Homo sapiens: one gene and its partners. The protein of the gene in region 1 purifies or fractionates together with the protein of each later gene. This does not show direct contact. Each region holds a gene or a part of one and is shown in the gene's direction. Other genes may lie near its edges.

What was found. The genes of interacting proteins can lie anywhere in the genome.
Region 2: the proteins of NR2E1 (region 1) and RGPD5 purify together in Homo sapiens (affinity purification with mass spectrometry, with the first as the bait; 3 studies listed by BioGRID). This does not show direct contact.
Region 3: the proteins of NR2E1 (region 1) and ARL10 purify together in Homo sapiens (affinity purification with mass spectrometry; 3 studies listed by BioGRID and IntAct, with this or other methods). This does not show direct contact.

The regions. Positions count from the first base shown.
Region 1 is NC_000006.12:108,160,995-108,169,311, forward strand, and holds the start of NR2E1 (nuclear receptor subfamily 2 group E member 1), read left to right. Parts: upstream 1-5,027; 5' UTR 5,028-5,771; coding exon 5,772-5,796; intron 5,797-7,028; exon of another isoform or gene 7,029-7,032; coding exon of another isoform or gene 7,033-7,168; intron 7,169-8,317. UniProt on the Homo sapiens protein: Orphan receptor that binds DNA as a monomer to hormone response elements (HRE) containing an extended core motif half-site sequence 5'-AAGGTCA-3' in which the 5' flanking nucleotides participate in determining receptor specificity.
Region 2 is NC_000002.12:109,789,993-109,797,577, forward strand, and holds the start of RGPD5 (RANBP2-like and GRIP domain-containing protein 5/6), read left to right. Parts: upstream 1-4,312; 5' UTR 4,313-4,473; coding exon 4,474-4,545; intron 4,546-7,585.
Region 3 is NC_000005.10:176,360,697-176,368,759, forward strand, and holds the start of ARL10 (ADP-ribosylation factor-like protein 10), read left to right. Parts: upstream 1-4,790; 5' UTR 4,791-4,867; coding exon 4,868-5,050; intron 5,051-5,683; coding exon 5,684-5,885; intron 5,886-7,249; exon of another isoform or gene 7,250-7,335; intron 7,336-8,063.

The DNA.
Region 1 (8,317 bases):
TAAGTGAAATTGCTTTAATTGGAGCTTCTAGAAGCCCTTCTGGGAAATGAGAGGTAGCTGGATGCAGTAGAATGCAGTGGAATGAGTATTTCAAAGAGCACTGGACTCAGCATCAGGAGATATGGGTTCTGGGGATGATCTCTGTCTCTCAGTGAGTAAGCAAGGACAAGTTGTCTCTAAGGTTCTCACTTTCCTCATCTATAAAATGACTACATTAGAGGAGTGCCTTGTAACTTATGTGCTCTGTGATTCCACGCTAAATGGAAGCCAAGTTAGACTGTGTAATTCACAGGAAATTAGGAGGCTGAAGAAAGCTTGGCAGCCAGTATCTCCCTGGATGTAGTCTGTGTTCTGCTTTCTTGTTTCTCTAGTCATTCTTTTGTTTTCAGAAAGCCAAAAATGACCTGCACTGCTTCCCAAGGTTTGGAGATTCAGAGGACCTGTCCCTGTTCCCTTCCTACCCCATTGCTGGGGCTGAGCAAAAATGAGCCCTTCACCTCAAGCTTCAGTAGCTTTCATTGAGTATCATCAGGCAGGTTCACTCATACATTCCACATTTACAAAGCACCACTATGTGCCAGGGTGCAAGGGACTAGAAAGATGTTTCTACTTGATTATTCTTGGAGCCAGAGAATGTCAAGATGCAGCGGGACTCTAGAAGCCTCGGAGTCTCAGCCTGACTTTAGAACTGAATTTTTGTCCAACCAAGGGTGTGAATAAATGCAAAGACATGACTTGTTATTTGTTAAGGTTGTGGGGTGAGGGGGGTGGTCACACAGAGCATTGTCTCCTTGTTGTTAGCAGCGTTCATCTTCCTACTTGTGGGGAGTAACAGACTACTTTTGGCAATACAGTGCTCAAAAGTGTCAAGAAAAACCCTGCAACTCAGGACCCACTGGATTCTAGAGAACAAGCGTCTCTTTTCTGGATTGTTCTTGTTTATTTGGGGGGTAAATTTGGATAAGAATCAAACAACTTGTAGAGAGATCCACAGCAGAATCAAGAGCAAGCCTGCAAACACTGTTTCTTTCATTTGGCACTTAGCAAGCACCTACTATGTGCCAGACACTGCTCCATGACCCACCTCCTCTCTCACCATCCACTGGGCAAACAACAGCCATAGGTTGAATTATGATGTGGAAGCAAATGCAAATCAACTTCCTCCTTCATATAAACAAACAAACAAACAAACAAACAAAAACTTGTGTCAGAATGTTTTTGGATACTAAACATCAAAACTCAGCCAAGCTCAGCTGGTAGGTTTTCCCAGCGATTTCCTTGGTCTGAGCATCTCTTAACTCTGCATATCGGTAAGGGGAATGGTATTTTAAAGGAGTGACTCTCTAGAGGTTGAATGGCCTCTGTGAGGGGTCGATCACAGGGGATTGGGGAAGGGGTCTCTTTAACACCAATTCCATCAGCTCTGCTAGCTGATGGGAAAGCTTGTCCTTTCACCTTCGGTATTTTAATTTAGAAGAATGTGTGTGTGTGGAGGGGGTGTTAATGGAAAAAATGTCACCGTTTTTAGAGAAGCTAGTGAATGGCAGGGCTAGCAGTCAACCTCAGATAGTCTGAAACTTTGAGGGGTGCTCTGTACCCCTGCCTCTCTCATACAACCTAGTTAATAGGATTCTCTTTAACAGGGCACTAGCAGAGGAATGAGCTATAATACAATACAGTCCTCAGAGGACTGTAGAATCAGTAGATTCTCCTAACACAAGGCCAGCTTTCCAGGGCAATTCTGGACAGCCTATGTCACCGCACACTGGTTTAGGGCTCCTTGTATATATCTCCAGTGTCCTGTGTTTCATCCCAATCTAAAACATTTATCATCTTTTATGTGTCTGCTCCCTGCTACATGGAGAAAGGAGTCATGTCATTAATCTGCTATATCCCCAGGGTCTGGCATATAGTGGGTGCTCAGTATTTGATGAGTGGGTAGATTGATGGATGGGCAGAAATACCCCTTGATCCATGGTCCTCTCATGATCTTATTTCCTATCTCTTGGACCAAAATGTAAACATCCTTCGATAAAAGAACCTTCCCTGCGTTTTAGGCTTTGGTTTTGGTTGAGAGCTCCATACTCACAAGCGCCTACAGAGGAAATTAGGGGCTATGTCTGAACCTGTTTAGAAGGGTTTCAGAACCTCTGAGGGTGTGGCTATCCCCACCACCTTCCAAAGCAATAAACTTATCCTTGTAACTTAAGGTCTTGTCTCTGTTAAAAGATAATTCTGAGCCAGATGGCATTTGCCCCTTATCAATCATTTCCTTTAATGGACTCACAGGAAAAAATCTTTGAAAGTTAAGACCGAACAGGGTGAGAATCCTTTTACAAATAACAATCTGGAACCCAGAGAGGTCTAGCCACTCGCCTAAGGTCACACAGCTTGTTGGCACAGCCCTGAATCCCTATCTCGTGGTTTCCAGCGTTTAGCCTGGCTGTGCCTCCAGTGGCCCCTCAGGGCATCTGCAGGTGACTTCCCTTCATTTGCCCAACATTTATGCAGCACCTACTATGAATCAGGCAGCATGCTGGGGCCTGTGGATAGAAAGATGAAGAGCCATAGTCTTTGTCCTGCAAAGGCTTTCTTCTCTGAGCTGTACCCATGGTAGCCCCAAGTTTCTACGCCTTAAATCCGAGGTCCCCCGTGGCCTGCAGCAGCTTTGCCTGAGTAGAAGGCAGCCCGCACTAAGGCTCCAGGCTTATTTGGGACCTGGTGGGCGACGGGGCCTCAGCCCCTCCCGCCTACCCTGGAGCTTGTTGCCGCCGTTACCACTGAACCAGTCATGCCAGAAAGTCATCACGATGATTTCAGAACTGTATTGTGATTTATGCAAAGCGCGCCGATAATTACAGCCGGGCGCACAGAACACAGGATGCATATGCTGCGGGTGTGTGCGCGCAGTGTTGTGCCTTTCGCCAGGGCTGAATGGGGTGTGTGTGTATTCCGTAGGCATCTTCTTGACACCATGCTTGATCGGGGACTGGTGACAGGAAAAAGAGGGAAGATACCCATTTTGATTTTGAGACAATTTGATGAGCCTTGGGAGTATTTTCCAGAAGTTTTGGTGCCTACAAATGAGCCAGCCTGGCAGGAGCGTTCGAGAGTAGGGGAAGAGGTGGTTTGGAGCCCAGGAAAGCCATCGTCCAGCCCCCGCACAGGCAAAGCAATTAGTAGTTCTCCTTCTCGAAACAGACCCCTAAATGCTTCCCCTGCAGACAGGCCTGGGTCTAGTCATCACCCCCCACACTGCCCTCATCTTCGCCCCAGATAAATTAGTTCCACCCTTGAAGTTCTTTGTCCTGAACCAAAGAACCCCATAATCGCGTCCGCGTTATGGGGGTGGTGGTGGTAGGTGGCTGAAGCAAGTGGATTTCTGGCGTGAACCAGAACCTGAGGATTCCAAACGGAGCCTGGCATCTTATTGTGTTTCTCAAATCCTGCCCGAAATTCCTCCCCTCTCTGGGCGCCGAGTTCGAGAAAGCGCTACGCCGCCGGTCGGGCTAGCTCCACAAGCGGCTGTACAAGTTGGCTGTCAAAAAACGCTGATTTCTCCTCCTGTCACCTAATAAACCCCTACGCGCTTATGGCCTCGTCCCACAATCCCCCAATCTCGTCCCAATTCGAAAAACCGAGGAGGAGGGAATAAACTGAGAGATAAAGATCCCCCCATCTTGCTCTTTCCCCGGGACCCCAGCCTTGGTCGCGGCGCCCCACTAAGGAGGACACAGGCTCTGGTGTGTGTGGTGTGCGAGACCCCGAGCTCGAGGCCGAGCCAAGGCTGGGCAGAAAGTTGCAATCACGTGCTGTCGGAGCCCACTGGAGCGCACAGCCCGCTCCCCCTGGGACGCCCAGGCGGAGGACCTGCTGCGCCCTCCCAGGGCTCGGGGGACTCCAGCATTCACTTGCACGCACAGGCGAACTCTGATTGAAAGCCCGGGATGACACCGAGTCTGGAGAAAGAGGGACCGGGGGGTGGGCTGGCGGAATTGCAGAGCGCCGGCCACAGCTCCCCTCCCCGCGAACGTCGAGCGGAGGGCGGGAGGTGTAACCTCTGACCTCTGGCCGGGTCCACGCCCTGAGGAGGGACTGGCAAGCTCTTGTTCGACAAGTTCAAGCTGCCGAGAGAGCTTAAATAGAATTAATCTCTTAGAGATCGGGGATCATCGCTCCCTCGGCATGCGCTCTCCCAGCGCCGCGCACAGAGCAAGGCGCGAGAGAGCTCAGGAATCGCGGGAAGGCAAGCGGAATGGGGAGGGGGTAGGGGATGAGGGCCTCTCTTCACTATTCCTCCGCCCGGAGAGCGGGAGCCCGCAACGCCCGCCGAGGACGAGCGGCGGGAGGGAACGCTCTGCCCTCCAGCCGCCCCGGTGCAGATAATGGAGGCGACAAGAGATTCGCTCAGCGTCGGATGGGCCAGCTCTGCTTGGGGAAGCTGGCGGCATCCTCCCCTCGGCTGGTGCCCAAACCCACTGCGCGAAGGCCGAAGGAACGCGGAACCTCCAGAAGACCCCATCCTCAGCCCTGACTTTCCGTAGATATGTGCAAAATGAGTAAATTACTCACCTCGGGCCAGATCCAAGTTTTACCCAACAGAAGGGGCACCGGACCAAGAATGAACCAACTCACATGGCCATGTCCGGCGCGCACAATCACACGCCAGCACACAGCCACCCAATTTCTTCCGCGAATCTATCTGGCACTCTGGAGAGAGGGGGAAAAGCGTTTTGAGAAAGCCCCGTCACCCCTCCCCTTCCTTCTTGCCGTGAAATATACGAATTCATTTTTATTACGAGCCGCACCGTCCTCACCATCACGCACGCACAGAGCCACACTCCCATATTCACACTTTCTAACTCGTAAGCTCCGACAGCGCCTGCATTTTCTTTGGGAGCCGCTTGGAGGTTCATTAATATCATTAGCATTTAACCCCCTCCCTCTTCCCATCCCCTCCCCGCACATGGCTGACGTCAGACCCCGCCAGGAGTTGGGGGAAAAGCTAAGTGGGCCAGGGACGCCCTATTCCCCTCCCCGCGGCTGCCTGTCAGAGCGCTTCTGGAGATATTACAGGGGACCCAGCCCGCAGCGACAGGCACAAAGTCACGGGGTAATGAACTTCGGGGACCCTTCGCCGCTGCGTGCGCGGCTCTCCCCGGAAACCCGGACCTGGCCGCCTCTTCCCTCGGAAGATTTCCCAGCAATCTAGTTTTCCCACTCTGCGCTTGGGTTCCGGCAGCGCGGAGCCCGTCTGCCTCTGAGACTGCGGTAGTGTTTTCCTTCTTTCCTTGGGAGACCAGCGGTCGGCAGAGATTGCCCACACTCTGCATGCCTATGTAGAGGGAGAGATCGAAGACTGAGTGACAGGAATGGGGAAAAAGAGGGATTTCGCTCCGTAGGAAGGCCATTTTCGTGTCTCCATCTCTGTCTTTCAACATCCCTCTCTTGCTGTTCTTCCTTCTTCCTCAGTCTTCCTGTCCATCTCTCCATCTGTCTGTCCATGTGTGTGTCCATATCAAGCAGCATTCCCAGCAGCTGCGGTTTTGCAAGAGCCGGGAAGAAACTTAAGGATGCTTAAATTTCCACTGTTGGACGAATTCTGAGCGCCCAGGGAGCAGCGCAGCGCGCGACTGACACCCACCTGTCCCGCCCAGGAGCCTTGCAGGCTGGAGGGCAGCTGGAGAGCGGCGGCGCCCGGCGGCGAGGCGGGCGCTGCCGGCCGGGACTCGGGCAGCGCCCACCAACCGCTCCGCCCCGGGACAGCCAGCATGAGCAAGCCAGCCGGATCAACAAGTGGGTACCTCTCGGGCCGCCGTGGGGCCTAGGCGCGCAGCCTGGGGCGAGCGAGCGGGGAGGCTGGGGGAGGTCCTGCCTGGAGCGCTGCGAATCTGAGCCCCTGAGAGGGATTCCAGCGGGCGTGTGCGTTCGGCCCAGACCTGTAGACCGTGAGTTGGAGCATTTCGTGGAGAGGGGAGAGCCGTTTCGTTGCCTCTGGATTGCTTGATCCCCCCTGTCTGGTGCGGTGAGAAGGTTACGACCCGCGCAGCCCACCAGTCGGATGAGTTGTCTCCATTTAGCCGCCAGGTGCTGGATGGGGGGGCCATGGGGGCGGGAACTGGGCCGCAGCTCCAGGCGGTAGCACAATAACACACTCGCTCAAAACTCCGAGCTCCAGCGCGCAAAAGCAACTCTGTGCAAAGCGGATTTTGAATGGAATGCTTTGCACCCCGTTTCTAGCTATTTCAAATAATCCTGCAAACTGGGAAGCAGAAACAATTTAAAAGTCACATTTTCCTTAATCCTAAATCCGCGTAGGTCATAACTGGGGAATTTAAAGTATGGCGAACCACTCTAGCAAAGAGAGGACCAAATCCCTAATCCCAAGGACTTTTCGAGCCGGAGCCCAGCAGAGGCAGGAGTGCGCGGCCTGCTCCCTCCGTGCGCTTCTCTCCTTCCTCGAACTTCCTTAGCTGCCGGCTCTCCGAACGCCAGGCCGCAGCTGACCTCTCACCACCCCGAGACTCACGAGCGCAGGGCTAAGTGTGTGTGCGAGGGCATTTGCTTGCACCCTGCCTGCGGAACCCAAGAATGTGCAGGCCCGAGCCAGCGTTGAGCAGGCGCGGTCACGGTGCTCAGATCTCCCGGGGGCATTTCAGTTCCCGCCATCCAGTGGCCCACGGCTGCGGGCTCCAGGGTCTGAGGCTGGGGACTACCGTTGCCGCCGCAGTCCCCATATCCCGAAGTTGCCTTGCTGCTTGTGTTGTTTTCGCAGATAGCATTTTTGGCGCTCTGTGCGTTCCTTCCCTCCCCCTCCCCCTTTCACTCGCCCTCATTGTCCTGAGTCTTTGAAAGTTGGGAGAATCGGAGATACTTCTGAGGACTGGTAATGAAGTCTCACTTAAGTGGGATGCAATTCCCGCCCTCCTACCCCCCTCCAAGAAGGAGGTTGTGTTTTCATTTTGTTTTGCTTTGGGTGCTGACCTTTAAAAAATTAGAGCAAAATGAACGTGAACAAAAAGAAAAGGAGAAATGTTTCGAGCTGGGGCAGAGGGAGCAGAGAAGGAGCCCTCACCGCGGCCGGAATGCAGAGCGGACCCTGGCCCAGGACTGGGTTTCCCTTTAGGCTCGGGCCTACCCTGGCCCTCGCTGTTGGAATCTCCAGGAGGTAAAGCGACCTCGATTTTTGTTGCCCGCATTCCCGGGCGTGAGTGTCCTTCCCAGGAGGCTCAGGAGGCCGTTTCTGTTGCATTCTGAGCCTCCGTTGCAAAAACTGAAGCCCGTGGGTCTCGGCAGGCCTCCTAGCTCGCTCGCCCCGGGACAGGCCCTCGCCTACACCCCTGGAAGTAAGGAGCCCCGGGCTCTTTCGTCCTTTTCGGGGTGTGGAGCCCCTGGGGCCCTTGAAAGGTGAGGCCTCAGAGGCGAGGGAGGGGTGAGCGGGGAGCTCTGCCCGCCTGCGGCTGCGCCCCCGCTGTGGACTAGGAGGCAGGCCAACCCTCCGGACTTTGGGGGAAAAACCACAGCGGGCTCCTTGCGGAAACTTTGGCCGTTCTAACTTGCCAAGAGCCTGAGTGAGGCCTTGGAAGCCTCCAGCCCCGGCTCAGGTCGGGACGCGGCTGCTGAGCTTTCTCAGGCCCGCAGGACAGCGGCCCCCGCCGGTGGCGCCGCTGCATTTAGGCCCTTTCCAGACCGGTGGCGGCAGCCAACCCGAGACTTGCGTCCCTCGGGCCCGGGGCAGCTAGGAGGTCGGCGCGCAGCGGGCCGGGTCAGGACTGGGTCGAGCAGACAGAGCTGCAGCCCCCGCCTTGCCCGGCTTCTCGCGGCTGGAGAGCAGAGCGATGTCACCCGGAGCCCCGCCTGGGTGGTAACGAGACCCTGGCCAGTCACCCCTGCAGCCCAGACTAACTTCTTTCAACAGCCTCTGATGGTAATTACAGTAATCGAAGCTGCCATATATCTTTAGGCAATTATGACACACAAAAAGCCCCGAGGGGACCCCCTGGCGAGGGAAGTTAAGAACGGTTTTCCAGCTTCAGGAAACTCCGGCTCGCCTCACGTCGGAGCTCGCTCGGCTTGCTAAATGAGAGGAGCTTTGCAACGGGGTCAACCAGCTTGTCTCGTGACCCCAAGTCACCTTAACGTGGCTGGGTGGCGGAGTCTGAGGCACAGGCCCGCTATGCCCCGGAATTTTCGCGTCCCTCCCTCCTGGGCCCCGCCCCAGCCCGGTTGCCTGTTTCTAATCTGCCCCGGGAGCCGCGGCTCAGAGGTCTGCTCAGAGGCAGGACTCGCACTGGTGGTGGCCTAGAGGGCAACAGTC
Region 2 (7,585 bases), on another chromosome or scaffold:
TGGGGACAAAGTGACAAGATGGGGAGTAGGGAAGTGGGCACTAGTTTGTGTGTTAATAGGTCAGCAAGTCTTTTAGAGTCCTGGGAAGTAAAATAAAAATTAAAACAACAAAAACAAGCCGGACAGGGCAGCACATTCCTGTAGTCTCAGCCACTAGGTAGGCTGAGGTGGGAGGATCACTTGAGCCCAGGAGGTTGTGTCTGAGCCTCCCAGCTACTCGGGAGGCTGAGGCAGGAGAATCGCTTGAACTCAGGAGGCGGAGGTTGCAGTGAGTCAAGATTGTGCCATTGCACCCCAGCCTAGGCAATAAGGTGAGACTCCATCTCAAAAAAAGATAATAATAATAAGGGGAAAACTCAGAGATGGAATTACATGCACCAGGTGTAGTGTGAGCAAAGGATTAACTTCCTGATACATTCTTGTTTCCCATATATATAGCTATCAAGGTCATCTTTTAGTAATGAGTTAAGTTCTTTCTTTTCCAACTCAAAATTTGTCTGCATCTTTACCCAAATATCCAGATCTGATACTCTAGGCTTGGGCTAATATAGTGGGGTGGAGGAGGCTTGGGTTAAGGTTTAAAGTTCCAAGGGCTGAACCGGAATAAATGGTGTATTTATCAAGGGAAGAGCAAGGCAAAACCAGCAAGTCCAAACCATGGAGGCCTCAACCGAGGTGAGGGGAAAAGTTAGGGAGCCTTAGGAAAGCTCTGAGGAGGGACCCCAATTAGGGGGACCGTAGTTAGGGTATGAGGTTTGTGAGATCAGGACTGGAATTGCTGCAAGAGACCCTATGATTGGGTGGCAGCAGCATGTTGTGGAGATGAGCCTGCTTCCTCAGCCTCTTCCTCTTGTCAGAACCCTTTGCCTCTCCCTACACACGCACACACACATGCATGCACCATGCTACAGAAACCTTTCTCAGTCTTGCCATTCTCTCAAATTATGCGTTGGTCTTCCCTTCATCTTCAGATTCTTTAAAGAGTAATCAAAGTTCCCACTTCTAGCATGATGAAGTGAGGAGGTCAACAAATCTTTCCAAAATGTAACTGTATAGCTGGACAAACCATTTAGCATTCTGCAATTTTACCAAAGGCACGGCACAAATGGGGATGTGTTTAAGAATGAAAGCTGGCCAGGCGCGGTGGCTCACGCCTGTAACCCCAGCACTTTGGGAGGCTGAAGCAGAAGGACCACTTGAGCTCAGGAGTTCAAAAACAGCCTGGGCAACTTGGTGAGACCCCCGTCTGTACAAAAAAAAAATCAAAAAAGGCATGGTGGTGCACACTTGTGGTCCCAGCTACATGGGAGGCTAAGGCGGGAGAATCATTTGAGCCCAGGAGATTGAGGCTGCAGTGAGCTGTGATCACACCACTGCACTCCAACCTGGGCAACAGAGTGAGACAGACCCTGTCCCTAAAGAAAAAAAAGAAGAATTAAAGTGAGCCTTGGATAAGACCAGCCTGTGTCCGTGGCATCTTTGCCCAGGCTGCTACCCCCATTTACCCCAGCTGTTGATAACACACACAGCGGCCCCCAGCAGGGCAGCCTGTGGAGATAAGCTCCCCTGCCACCTCGCTGCAGGGGCTGGAGGCAAGAGTGAGGAAGGTTTTGATTTGCAGCATGGCTAGTTAAGGTGGTGATATCAGTGACCAGGAGGAAGAAAGGCCACTGACTCCTAGCCTGAGGCTCTGGGCCTTTGGAGACGAGCAAACGACCTGCAGATTAGTCATGGATGTAAGAGGGAGCTCCGGGAGGTCGGAGAGCCAGAGGGAGCTTAGTAAACTCTTCACACTACCCAAATGGACTGAAGGCTCATAGCTGGCAGAGATTAGAGCAAGCCCAAGCCATGTCCATATGCCCAGGGCACACAGCCTGTGTGTGTGCCGGTGCCAGTGTTAGGAAGTAAAAGCCGGAACACCCTTGCAAATGGCCCGGGGCGTGCCTCCTCCCCATTGCACATAGATCCAGCAGCAGATGGTGGAAACCATATTGGCTTTAACTGATGTTTGACTGACGAACTATGCAAACAAGAAGCGACCTCTAGGGAGTCAGTCTGAAAAATTAAAGCAAACAAATGCCAACAATAAAACTTAGCAATGACCTGAGTGAGTGCACACTGTGGAGGAGACAGGCTTCCTGCATGGAGTCCAGCCAGGAGACAGTACAGAATGCATGGAGCAGCTATTGGAAGACATTGAAAACTAAATAGTTGCAGGCAGCTTTCCCAAGAAGACCAGAACTTGAAGTACCACCAAACCGGTGGTGAGATAACCATGTTTCCCCTATGGCATCCCGTGACTAACCTGGCAGTGGGCACCAGGGTGCAGATAGAAAGAGCTCCAGAAGATGCCCTCTATTTCTGGCTCAAGTAACGGGAAAAGGGTCTCCTAACATTCCGAGGGAATCCAGAAGTTCGTTCCTCCCCATTTTTCTTTTCCCTGTTCTCTCATACCTCAGCCCACAAGCAGTCCCACAGTGGCACTGGCACCAGCCCCAAGAGGAGCCCAGGAGCCAAGACGCAGGAGGGAACCTTCTCCAACTGACAGAGCTGTGGTCCCAAGAGGGCAGAAACAATCCATGTTGCTTCTCTTCCAATTCAGTCCTCCCACTGCTTGGCTTCAGATGTAGAAATGCATGGTAGAGCCAGATACCGAAAGCCTGTTTTCTGCTTGGAAGACTAAAAAGAGAAGCCTCAGCAAATGAAAGCAACAGGGTAATTGCTGAGAGAGAGTTAATCAGTGAAGCAACCCCATTAACCTGTCTATAAACCCCAGGGCTCATTCTTGAGCTGCTCCTGCATAGATCTCGTCCTGTTCAACACACCAAAGATTGACAGCTGAACTGAGAGACCATCACCCACAGACACAACTGGCCACTGGGTGGTGCACAAGTCAGACAGAACTGAATAGTCCTGTGAAGACTCTGGACACTGAACTGACTTTGGAACCAGACTGCAGAATGGAGGGGTGGGAACTTGTGGCTTGAACCTAATCAGGTAGATTGCCTGGCCAAAATGAAAATACCTATCATCTCCATAGGATTTAATTTCATTCAATGATTTTTTTTTTTTTAGTAAATTTGCAATGTTTTACAGCCTTCCCCAAAATCTAATTCCAAAATATCTCTATCACCCCAACGAGAGACTCCATTCACGTTGGCAGTCACATGCACTCCCAGATTTCCCCTCCACCCAGCCCTTGGCAATCACTAGTCTACTTTCTGTGTCTTTGAGTTTGCCTACTCTGGATATTTCATATAAATGAAATGATATATGAGGTTTTGTGATTGGCACCTTTAATTTAGAATAATGTTTTCAAGGCTGATTCATGTTGTAGTATGCATTGGTACTTCATTATTTTTTATGCAAAAGTAATATTCTATTGTATGGCTATACCACATTTTTCTTTGAGACAGAGATCTCACTATGTCGCCCAGGCTGGAGTTTAGTGGCTCTTCACAGGCCTGATCACAGCTCCTGCATGGATCAAGGAGCATCACTGCAGCTGCAAACTGCAGCTTCAAACTCTCCGGCTCAAGCGACCCTCCTGCCTCAACCTCCCCAGTAGCTGGGCCTACAGGCACGTGTGTCTGTGCCCAATAATACCACATTTTAAAAATCCATCTTCAGTAGATGGAAATTTGGATTGTTTCCACCTTTTACTAATAAAAATAGTACTGCTATAAACATTCATGTATAGGTTTTCTTTTGTTTTTGTTTTTTCTTTTTTGTAGAGATGGGGGTCTCGCTGTGTTGCCCAGGCTGGTCTCAAATTCCTGGACTCAAGTGATCCTCCCATCAAAAACTCCCAAAGTGCTGGGATTACAGGCGTGAGCCACTATGCCTGGCCTGTATACAAGTTTTTGTGTAGACATGTTTACATCCAATTAATGAACACAGGATGTCTTTCCATTGATTTAGCTCCTCTTTAATTTCCTTCAACAGTGTTCTGTAGTTTCCAGTCTACAAGTCTTACACTTTTGGGTTAAATTTATTCATAATTATTTTATTATTTTTGATAATATTATAAATGGAATTGTTTACTTAATTTTACTTGAATTGTTCCTTGCTGGTGTATAAGTAGACATCTCATTTTTTTAGTTGACCTCGTATGGTACAATCTCTTTGAACTCATTTATTATCACTGATAGTTTAGGTCTTTTTTTTTCGAGGTTTCATTAAGGTTTTCTATAGATAAGATCATGTCAAGACACCCTCAGACCACAGGGCGGCGCCACGAGCCCGGCCGAGTGCAGCTGGAGCGCCGACGTCGCCGAGGATACACAGTGCTGAGGCAGAACGCAGGTTCGTCACAGTGGGCCTCCGTGGGCGGCGCCGCACGCTCGTCACAGTGGGCCTCCGCCGGCTACGCCGCTGCTTCAGTGGCTTGCAGGCACTTTCCTCTTGGAAGTGGCGACTGCTGCGGGGCTGAGCGGTGCTCGCACGCGTCTCGGGAGCCAGGTTGGCGGCGCGATGAGGCGCAGCAAGGCCGATGTGGAGCGGTACGTCGCCTCGGTGCTGGGTCTCACCCCGTCGCCTCGACAGGTGAGTGGGTCTCGAAGAGAGCGACGGCGGCCTCGACCCGGCCGGGGGGCGGCGGCGGCGGCGGCGGCGGCGGGGGGGGCGGCGGCGGCGGCCGCCTCGATGGCTCAGGCGTCATGTCTCCCGAGGGGCGCTGCTCCGTGGCGCGCTCTGTTGAGGCGCCGGCCGGCTGGCGCAGTCCTGTGGGCGGCGTGGCGCTTGCAAGCGCAGGAAGAGTCCTGGGGGGACCGCGGCGGGCGGGAGACCGTTGGCGCCGGCGCTTCCTCTTAATCCCGGCTTGTTCCCGACGCTTGTTCCCGACGGTGCTCGCTCCTGGGCCCGTCCTGGCCCGGGCTTTCTGGCCGATCGCGCACCCCGTAGTACCCGCGCGGCCTAGTTCTCGGGGGCTTGGGCACCCGGGTGCTGTATCGGCGGGTTTCTTCCCATCTCCTGGACATTTACTTTATATGCTGCGGCGGAGGTCGTACCTCCTTGGCCTGGAGGAACCCAGTGGGGACTGACGCAGCTCCGGGTGAGCTTTGGCGGCTGCGTCGAGTGACAAGGTAGGCATCTCAGCGCGGACATTTGCAATGGCCCGACGGCGCAAATGACACGGAAAGTCCCCTTGTTTTGAGTATGAGGTGTTTGTCGCTGTCCCTTTGTAAGGGTCCAGCTCCACTCCACTCCTCATACTCACCTCCCTCGCCCCCCTCCCCGCCCGGAACACTTTGGTAGCTGCCTTTGCTTAAAAAAAAAAAATTCTAAAGTTCTTACAAATCGTTAGTATGGCTTGCAATTTTTAACCTTTTCCACAGATGTTTTAAGGGTATTTTTCCTCTTTACATGTAAATAATGCTGAGATTACAGGTGTGAGCCACTCTGCTCAGCCTGATTTTTTTTTTTTTAAACAAGCTTAAAAAAAAAAAAAGCAAGTTTGGAGCCTTTCTGAGATTCTTAGTGGGGACCTTGGCTTCCAAAAGATTAAAAACCACTGGTCTAGACAGAAGTTAGAATGTTCTTTCAACTACATAACTTCTCCATTAAATAAAGTGGAGTGGTGGCAGAATTTTGACGATTGGTTATTATGACACCTCTCTTACATTTAGAGTCTTTTTTTTCCCCCAAATTTAAAGTCATTTACATTAGAACCTGGGGATTTCAGCGGAATATGGATTAACTAGTGAGTAACTGGAACATGTGAAGCTATTCTGTGAAGTTAGGTTTGAGTGAAATGACAAAACAGGGTGCTTTGGATAGAAGGTAAAGAATGGAGGGAGAAGAGGCAGTGGCTGTGAAGAATATGAAGAGGTTAGTATTCTCCCCCAGTTTGGCAGAGGCTGGCCATCTGTGAACTGCCCATGCTTTCTAGAATGTCGGAGTTTTGGAGTGTGATGATGCGTCTGTATATCATATCTTTCTAGTCTTCCATTGCGCTTTCATTTGTTAGTCTCCTCTTGTTTTGCCATTTTTCTACTCCCTCACATGTGCTTTTGCCCTTCTTAAAAATATTCTTCGTCTGTAATCCGAGCATTTTGGGAGGCCGAGAGACCAGCCTGACCAATATGGTGAAAATCCGTCTCTATTAAAAATACAAAAATGAGCCGGGCGTGGTGGCAGCGCCTGTAGTCCCACCTACTCGGTAGGCTGAGACAGGAGAATTGCTTGAACCCTGGAGGCAGAGGTTGTGGTGAGCAGAGATTGCGCCACTGCACTCCAGCCTGTGTGACAGAGCGAGACTCTGTCTCCAAAAAAGAAAAAAAGAAAAAAAATATAATTCTTTCTCTAGTTTTTCTTTTTCCAGATGGCTTCTGTTTAGTTTTTCTATGTTCTGTCAAGTCGGTTTCTTATTCTGCAGCTGATTCCTACTTCTCAAAGTCTACTTGACAGCTCTTATTTTTATTTGTATTTTTTTTAGAATAGGGTCTTGCTGTGTTGCCCATCAAATTTTTGGGCATAAATGATCCTCCTACCTCTGTCTGCTGAGTACTTAGGACTACAGGCAGGCACCTTTGACAGCTGTTAGTTGTTTTTTCTGCCCTTTACATCTATACTTCATACTTCTGAGTAACACACATATATACTTTTGTTATTTTTAATTCCCTTTCTCCCATTTTAGACATTTTCTTTTCTTTTCTTTTCTTTTTTTTTTTGAGACGGAGTCTCGCTCTATCGTCCAGGCTGGAGTGCAGTGTCGCGATCTCGGCTCACTGCAAACTCTGCCTCCGGGGTTCACGCCATTCTCCTGCCCCAGCCTGTAGCTGGGACTACAGGCACCCGCCACAACACTCGGCTAATTTTTTAGCATTTTTAGTAGAGACGGGGTTTCACCGTGTTAGCCAGGATAGTCTCGATCTCCTGACCTCATGATCCGCCCGCCTCAGCCTCCCAAAGTGCTGGGATTACAGGCGTGAGCCACCGCGCCCGGCCCCATTTTAGACATTCTGTACTGGCTATTATGCTCCTCCAAAACTGTCCTCAGACACTTTGGTTTGCCCCTCATTCTTTCAGTACTGTTACTGCAGTTTTTGTTTAAATGAATAGTTAACATTTATATAAATAGAAGGTAAATATTTTTGCATTTGAATTGCCCTTGTTGTGCAGTTTTTTGTTGTTTTTTTTTTATTATACTTTAAGTTTTAGGGTACATGTGCACATTGTGCAGGTTAGTTACATATGTATACATGTGCCATGCTGGTGTGCTGCACCCACGTTTTCCTGGACTGAATAATTGCTTTATTTTTTGGTTTGCTTGTATGTTGTGTTACTACTTGCTTACTTAAACTCAGCAATTTAAACCCTCAAATGTGGTCAAACTGGTCAGATAATCCCATCAATTTCAGCTTAAAACACTGATTGATTGATTGATTGTCTGTCTACCTGGAATACCCTTACTAACCAACTTCTCCAACCCGGATTGGTTTTTCTTCCTCTTTGCTACACAGCTGTGCTCTTGGGACTTCCCTTTATCACCAGTTTGAGAATTCCCTTCATCTTTTTTCTGAGTTAGACCCTTTGTTTCTTGTATCTCATGTCCTCTTCATTTACTTTCTTTGTTTTGGTGTAG
Region 3 (8,063 bases), on another chromosome or scaffold:
AGGCTGAGGCAGGAGAATAGCTTGAACCCGGGAGGCGGAGGTTGCAGTGAGCCGAGATCGAGCCACTGTACTCCAGCCTGGGCGACGGAGTGAGACTCGGTCTCAAAAATAAAAATTAAAAAAATTAAAAAAATGTTAAAAATAATAATAAAGAGAAGGAAACTAAAAATCAGAGGAGTTAAGTAAATTTGTCCACGGTCACAGATAAGTGGTCCGTGCGCAAGGTAGGTAGTTTCATGCCCAGTTTACAGGGGAGTTAAAACGAGGGCCTGAGAAAGTTACTCTTGTTTTTCAGCTTGCTACACCGTCCCTCTATCCCGATAGGACTCAGACAGAGCAAACAAGTTATTGATAGTTCTTCACTAACGAGCATCGCAAAGGCCGAATTCAGCCATCCTCCCAGTCCAGGGAGCATTCCCGCCCCAGACACGTCCCCTTCCCCTTTCCCTTTCCCTGTGCCCCCACCCCCCAGCTCACCGTCCCTCTGCCTCTCCTTCACAATATACAAGACGGTGCCGCCAGGATACGAAAGGCCGGCTGCTTCACCCACCCCTCCAGGCTAAGATTAGGGCCAGGACCCTAGCCGAAGGCGGGGTGTGGGGAGATGAGGTTGAGGACAAGCCGCGGGGGCTCGGGCTGGGCTGGTCCCACGAAGCGGAGGGGAAGCCCGTACGGGAGCTGCAGGGCATTCCCGGAGAGAAGCCCCATTACGGAGACCCCAGAGAGCGGAGCCAGGGAGGCAAGAGGCGACCCAGCCGAGCTCGAAGCCGGGATGAAGGGTTAAGAGGTGCGGGGAGAGGGGAGTGGCTTGGAGGGGCCCCGAGATCGGGCCTCGCCGGAAGCGCCCCTCCTGATCGCCAGAGAACGCAGCCCCAAGGGAGGGCCCAGGCCCGCCATCTGTTCACCTGTGATCCTGCTGCCGCGGGACTGCCTGCGGCCCGGAGTCCGGCACTAAAAAGGTTCCGAGGGCCCACGTCTCCCGAGAGGCTGTGGCGCAGTCTGGACCCAAGCCATTGTGAGAGCGGCGGCGATTTCGAAGGTCCCCAAGACCCACTAGGTAGCAGTACCACCCAGCGGGCAGGCAGCACTGCAGATAAAGCCTCCGGAGACCGCGGGATCTCGCGCGAGACTTGGCCCAGCGGAGCACAGGGCATGCTGGGAGTTGTTGTCCACGATCGCGAGACCCGCCCCCTCCCCATGCCCTTCGCCGCCCAGCGAGTTGTGGAGCCGCAGCTCCGAGTGTGGAATCCGCCAGCCCCGAGAGGAAACGCCACACTTCACCACCACTTCCTCAGCGCGTGTGCTGTGCCTGGGTCCGTGACAAGCTAAGGGAAGACGGAGGTAGCATAGTAAAATGACACCCACAAACCCAAGCCCTCAAGGCTCAAAAAGGGCTGCCAAGTGCGAGCACTTGTCATCCTGTTTTTCCCACTTCACGGAGGTGAAGCTGAGACTGGGAGAGATGAGAAGTCACTTCGATTAGCAAGCGGTGCAGTGAGCACGGACTGTCTCCCAAAACAGCGGGGTTAGGCAGGGTTCGTACTAGTAGCTGAACCAAAAAAGGGAACCGACCTCACCTGCCTCCCCTAGGGAAGGCGATCCTAATATCATTTCTCTTTTACATAAAGGAGAGTGAGGCTTAGAGGCGCCAGCTGAGGTGTCAGTCACATCCTGAAGGAAGACTTCTCTTATCCCTGAAGGGTTCACAAAGAAGGCGAAGCAACGAAGTTACAGCAGAATTTGCAAAAATCTATCCACGTTTCTACCCCAGTCCAAAGCTCGCCATCAAAACTCATCTCAGGAGAGCTATGATTGGTGGTGCAGGGTGAATGTCACATTTAGATTTCAGCATTTGAGGCTTCCAGCCGTACTGGCAGAACTGAGAGGCCTTGCTCATGCGACTTGAAACTTAAGCGCTGTTTCCAGACCAGGGTGCTTGAGTGCACTAAGAATTAAAGTCTTTGATGAATTCTATAATTAGCTTATCAACAGCACAATTACATTGCAGTATAATTGTGTGTATATGTGTGCGTGCGTGTGTGTGTTAAAGGTGTTCCTTTGTTAATTTGGAGCTTTTAAAATATGCCATATTTTTTAACCTCTGTGGAAGCAAAGCTGGCACCTTGCTCTTTATCCACCACAGGAAGGGATGTATATCACCTCTCAGTCAGAAAAGGAAGAAATAGCACTTTGCACCCTTATGTAGATCATAAGGTGGGATCATCTCATTTATTTCTTAGCCACAAATACATGAAAACTTAAGACTTTCCTGGAAGTTACTATTTGATTAAAACAACTTTTTCTGGCTGGGCACGGTGGTTCAGGCCTGTAATCCCAACACTTTCAGAGGCTGAGGCGTTCGAGACCATCCTGGCCAACACGGCGAAACCCCGTCTCTACTAAAATACAAAAATCAGCCAGGCGTAGTGACAGGTGCCTGTAATCCCAGCTATTCTGGAGACTGAGGCAGGAGAATCTCTTGAACCTGGGAGACGGAGGCTGCAGTCTGCCTTGTCCTAGGTACCCCCAGTGACTGCCAAGGCTTCCACGTGTGTAGCACGAGGAGGAAGAACAGGAGAAACGACCTGAGTACAGCAGTCGGGTTCTTTTGGCTCTCCAGAGGGGTGACGCCATGTACGGCTGGCTGTAGGGTACATGGGTTGAGAGACCGCCTGTGGCTCTCAGGGCCCAGCAGGGCTACCTCTTTCCCTTTATATTGTCTCAACTCTTCACCTCCTTTTAGTTCGCGATTCCTCTGTACCCCTGGCTCTGGGTCCCAGCCCCTATTCCTTCTGATTTGTCCCCCTTTCCCTTTGACTACATATATATGCTCCTCTCCTCCCAGATAGTGATGTTTTAGCTACATCTTATTTCTTCCGGCATTGATTCTTTTGAAAAATTTATTTCTGGCTGGGTGTGGTGGCTCATGCCTGTAATCCCAGCACTTTGGGAGGCCTGAGATCACACTACTGCACTCCAGCCTGGGCTACAGAGTGAGACTCCATCTCAAAAAAAAAAAAAACTTTATCCCTGATATTTGTGGTACCAATGTCTGAAGCTGTCATGGTCTTGGTGCATAGCACCTATGTGAGAGCACCTATTTCTTTTCCACAAATAATAGACTGTAAACATTTTTTTTTTTTTTTTTTTTGAGACAAGGTCTCGCTCTGTTGCCCAGGCTGGAATGCAGTGGCGCAATCTCGGCTCACAGTAACCTCTGCCTCCCAGTTTCAAGCGATTCTCCTGCCTCAGTCTACCAAGTAGCTGGGACTACAGGCGCCTGCCACCACGCCCGGCTCCACGCCCGGCTAATTTTTTGGATTTTCAGTAGAGATGGGGTTTCACCGTGTTAGCCAGGATGGTCTCGATCTCCTGACCTCGTGATCCGGCCGGCTGCCTCGGCCTCCCAAAGTGCTGGGATCACAGGCGTGAGCCACCGCACCAGCCAAACTTTTAATCTTAGCAATTTTGTGGGTTTTCCCCTCTAAGTGGGTGTATTTTTGAGGAGGAGCTAATTTTTTTTTCTTTTTTTTTTTTTTTGAGACGGATTCTTGCTCTGTCACCCAGGCTGGAGGGCAGTGGCGCAATCTCAGCACACTGCAACCTCCTCCTCCTGGGTTCAAGCGATTCTCCTGCCTTAGCCTCCTGAGTAGGTGGGATTACAGGCACGTGCCACCACGCCCGGCTAATTTTTGTAGAGATGGGGTTTCACCATGTTAGGCAGGCTATTCTCGAACTCCTGACCTCAGGTGATCCGCCTGCCTCGGCCTCCCAAAGTGCTGGGATTACAGGCATGAGCCACCACACCCGGCCAGAAATAAATTTTTCAAAAGAATCAATGCCGGAAGAAATAAGATGTAGCTAAAACATCACTATCTGGGAGGAGAGGAGCATATATATGTAGTCAAAGGGAAAGGGGGACAAATCAGAAGGAATAGGGGCTGGGACCCAGAGCCAGGGGTACAGAGGAATCGCAAACTAAAAGGAGGTGAAGAGTTGAGACAATATAAAGGGGAAGAGGTAGCCCTGCTGGGCCCTGAGAGCCACAGGCGGTCTCTCGACCCATGTACCCTACAGCCAGCCGTACATGGCGTCACCCCTCTGGAGAGCCAAAAGAACCCGACTGCTGTACTCAGGTCGTTTCTCCTGTTCTTCCTCCTCGTGCTACACACGTGGAAGCCTTGGCAGTCACTGGGGGTACCTAGGACAAGGCAGTCAGCCCTAAACATTCTGAAGTCCTGACACTGCTTAATTCAGCCTGACCAGGACCCCAGCAAAACCCCTGTGGTCCGGGAGGCAGCGAAAGAAGGCTAGAGGTGGCGGGGAGCCACGGACCTGGGTTCTATTCCTGCCTCTGCCACCCCACTGCCGTGTGATATCGGGCGTCTTGCTTCAATTTCCTCCCGAGGTCTTGAGGGATGACCGGGAGACAGATCGCTTGGGTTTGAACGCAGGCTACACCAAAGCACTACGATGCGGCGTTGGGCGGGTTACTTAACTCCTGGGCCTCGGTTTTCCCTTCTGCGTGGTATCATTGTAAGGGGTAACGGAGAAAAGCCGTGAGCTAACCCCTGGTGGATGCTAGCAAGCACCGCCGTCTCCCGTCCTCCCCAGGCACAGCCTCTCCTTCCTCCACCCTGCACCTGGCAGGGGGACCGGAGGTCCCCGCGCGCCGGCCAGCGCCCCACCACCCACGCCGCCGGGTCCCGGGCGGCCTGCCGTGACAGCGGCAGTGCATTGTGGGGCTTGTAGTGCGGGACTGGGTCTGGGTGGGTGGGCGCGGCCGCAGCAGTCGCAGCGGGGCCATCTTCGGCGGGCGAGTGGGCTCGGCCTGTGCAACCCGCACCTGCGTCCCTCGCCCGGCCCGATGGCGCCGCGGCCGCTGGGCCCCTTGGTGCTGGCGCTGGGCGGCGCCGCGGCGGTGCTGGGCTCGGTGCTCTTCATCCTCTGGAAGACCTACTTCGGCCGCGGCCGAGAGCGGCGCTGGGACCGGGGAGAGGCCTGGTGGGGCGCGGAGGCTGCCCGCCTCCCCGAGTGGGACGAGTGGGACGTGAGTGCCGGGCCGAGGCCTGCGGAAGGGCGGGCAGGCTGGGCTGCGACTCCGCGCATGTGGCCAAGGGGTGTGACCACGGAACGGCCCTGCTGGTGCCGGGAGCTTGGGGGGTCGAGGGCTTGGCAGCCGCAGCGCACAGGCCCCGCGCGGGTGGGCGGTCAGAGCCCGGGAACCGAGGAACGGGTGGGTGTGCTTGGGTGCGTGCGGCGCCTTGGCGCCACGCCGTCGCTCCACGCCATGAGGCTCGGGTGTTCCAGCGGGGGCCGGAGTTTGGAGGGCGCGGCTCGGGAGCATCCCGGGGCCCAGCCGGGTCGGCTCGCGCCCCTCCGGCGCCTGCGCAGTGCACCCCGCCCGGGGGTGGGGATGTCGGGAGAAACCCCATCCCCTCCCGCCTGCGGTCGGGACTCCGAGACCGGTGGAGGAAGCGGGGCGCGCGAGCGTTTAAGGAATTCGCCAAGGGTTTGGAATTCAGGACTGCAAAGGCGGCGTTCGTCCCACTCATCCAGACCATGCCTGCCTGTCCCAGGACGGGTGGAAGGCGGGCCTGGGCCCTCTGGTGCCTTCGGTCTTCCCTCGGGAAAGGTCCTTCGGGAGGCCGCCAGCCGCAACCTTACCTCCGCTTCCCCGCAGCCCGAGGACGAGGAGGACGAGGAGCCGGCGCTGGAGGAGCTGGAACAGCGCGAGGTGCTGGTGCTGGGGCTGGATGGCGCAGGCAAGAGCACGTTCCTGCGCGTGTTGTCGGGGAAGCCACCGCTGGAAGGCCACATCCCCACCTGGGGCTTCAACTCCGTGCGTCTGCCCACCAAGGACTTTGAGGTGGACCTGCTAGAAAGTGAGCGGACACCCTACCCCATCTCCCCGTCTCCTCTACTGGACCAGTCCTGGATTCTCTGCAGGGAAGGGGGCTTCCAAAATGCATGTCTAAGCAGCACATTCCCCTCTACGAATCCTTCCCACCGCTCTCCGGGGCACAGGATTCAGCCCACGCTCTGTGCTCTGACATTTAGGGCCCTTCGTGATCGGGCCTCTCCAGCTGCACCGCCTGCCCCATCACCCCTACCAAAGTCGATAGGCCTAACACAGAGATACTAACAGCTAAGGGTTCATATGCCAAGCACTTGACGGGCATTGCTTAAGAAAACTCCCCTAAACAATTACATAAAACTAGAATCGGTCACTACCCTCGTTATCTCCAGAGGAAAATGAGTTCCAGCAGTAGTATCATGAATCCAAGGTCACCCACCTTTCTAGTCTTTTTTTTTTTTTTTTTTTTTTTGAGATGGAGTCTCACTGTGACACCCAGGCTGGAGTGCAATGGCGCTGTCTCGGCTCACTGCAACCTCCTCCTCCCGGGTTCAAGCGATTCTCCAGCTTCAGCCTCCTGAGCAGCTGGGATTACAGGCGCCCGCCACCACGCCCGGCTAATTTTTGTATTTTTAGTAGAGACGGGGGTTTCACCACATTGGTCAGGCTAGTCTTGAACTCCTGACCTCAAGTGATCTGCCCGCTTCGACCTCCCAAAGTGCTGGGATTACAGGCGTAAGCCATCGCACCCCACCATTCTAGTTTTTTTTTTTTGGAGACAGGGTCTCTGTCGCCCAGGCTGGAATGGCAGTGGGCAGTGGCACACCCTCCTCCACTATTGCCTGTCTGGCCCAAACTAGTGTCATCTTTCCTCTCAGCACCACAGCCTCCTCTTTGGTCTTCCTGCTTCCCCTTCTGTCCCTAGTGTCAGCTAGAGAAAACCCATGTCAGGTAATGTCACTCTTGCTTAAAGCCCTTGGGGGGCTCCCCACCCCCTCACTGTGGTCTTTGGCCCCATGTGGCCCGCCCCAGCCAGCCTCACAGCCATCTCTTTCTCCTTCTTGCAGTGCCTCAGCACCCCAGCCTTCTTTCTGTTTCCCAGACACTTCCAGCATGCTCTCCCCTCTGTCTGGAATGCTTTCCTCTGCCTCTTCCCATGGCTGGCTCCTTCTCATCATCCCACTCAGCTCACATGCCACTTCCTTGATGAGACCTACCCAGACCACCCAATCCAGGGCCAACCCCTGTTCCACCTCAGCCACTTTCCCTTTTTTCTGTTTTATTTCTTTCCTTTTTGAAATGTGTTGATGTCATTGCCATGTCCTTCCCAGTTAGGGAGGGAGCTCCTTGGTGCAGGGCCCCTGCTTGCCTTGCTCACCTCTGTATCTGCAGCACCCAGATCAGTGCTTGGCACCTAGCAAGCACTCAGTAAATATTTGTTGAGTGCCTGCTATGTGCCAGGCATTGTGCTGAGGGCTTTGTGGGGATTCAGAGGTAAGTGCCTCTGACTCTCACAGCTTAGAATCCTCAAGTGTCAGAAACATAGCCAGAAACACTAGGGTGCGGGGTGACCAATGGGACTGTGCAGAGGAGCAGAGAGGAAAAGAAAGGTGATCCAGGCTGGGGGACTGTGTTGGCAACCATGTGTTCATAGGATGAAATATGACATTTCCAAGGGAAAAGAAGGGGATGGGGGAAACTGAATGGAGAATGGCTGTGTATAGGCAGGGCAGGGGGTCCTGAGTTTTCTAGACAATAGGACTCCTGGCTCCTGTCACAGCCATCACTGACAGTTTTGAACCTGTAGGAGAAAGCTAGGAATTAGCAAGAGGCAAAGCCAGACAACCCAGGGGAGAGAACTGAAGACTTCCATTTACTGAGCACCTGTGTGTCAGTCCCGTGAAAGGTACATCGCACGTGGTACCTGTGGGTTTTACTGCAACAACCCGTTAGGAAAGTTCAGTGAGGAGACTGGTGCTTAAAGCTAGGGACTTGCCCCAAGAGACCCGCCTATCAGAGCTAGAGCTAAATCCAGTCTGAGTAGCTGCGGAAACTGCGGTCTTTTCCTTGCCCCCGGCTGGTGGAAGCTCACTAAGCTAGAAGCAGGGTGGGGTGGGGGCTGTGGGCAGTGAGCGGGGGCCCGGGGTGGGGTGGGGGCTGTGGGCAGTGAGCGGGGGCCCGGGGTGGGGTGGGGGCTGTGGGCAGT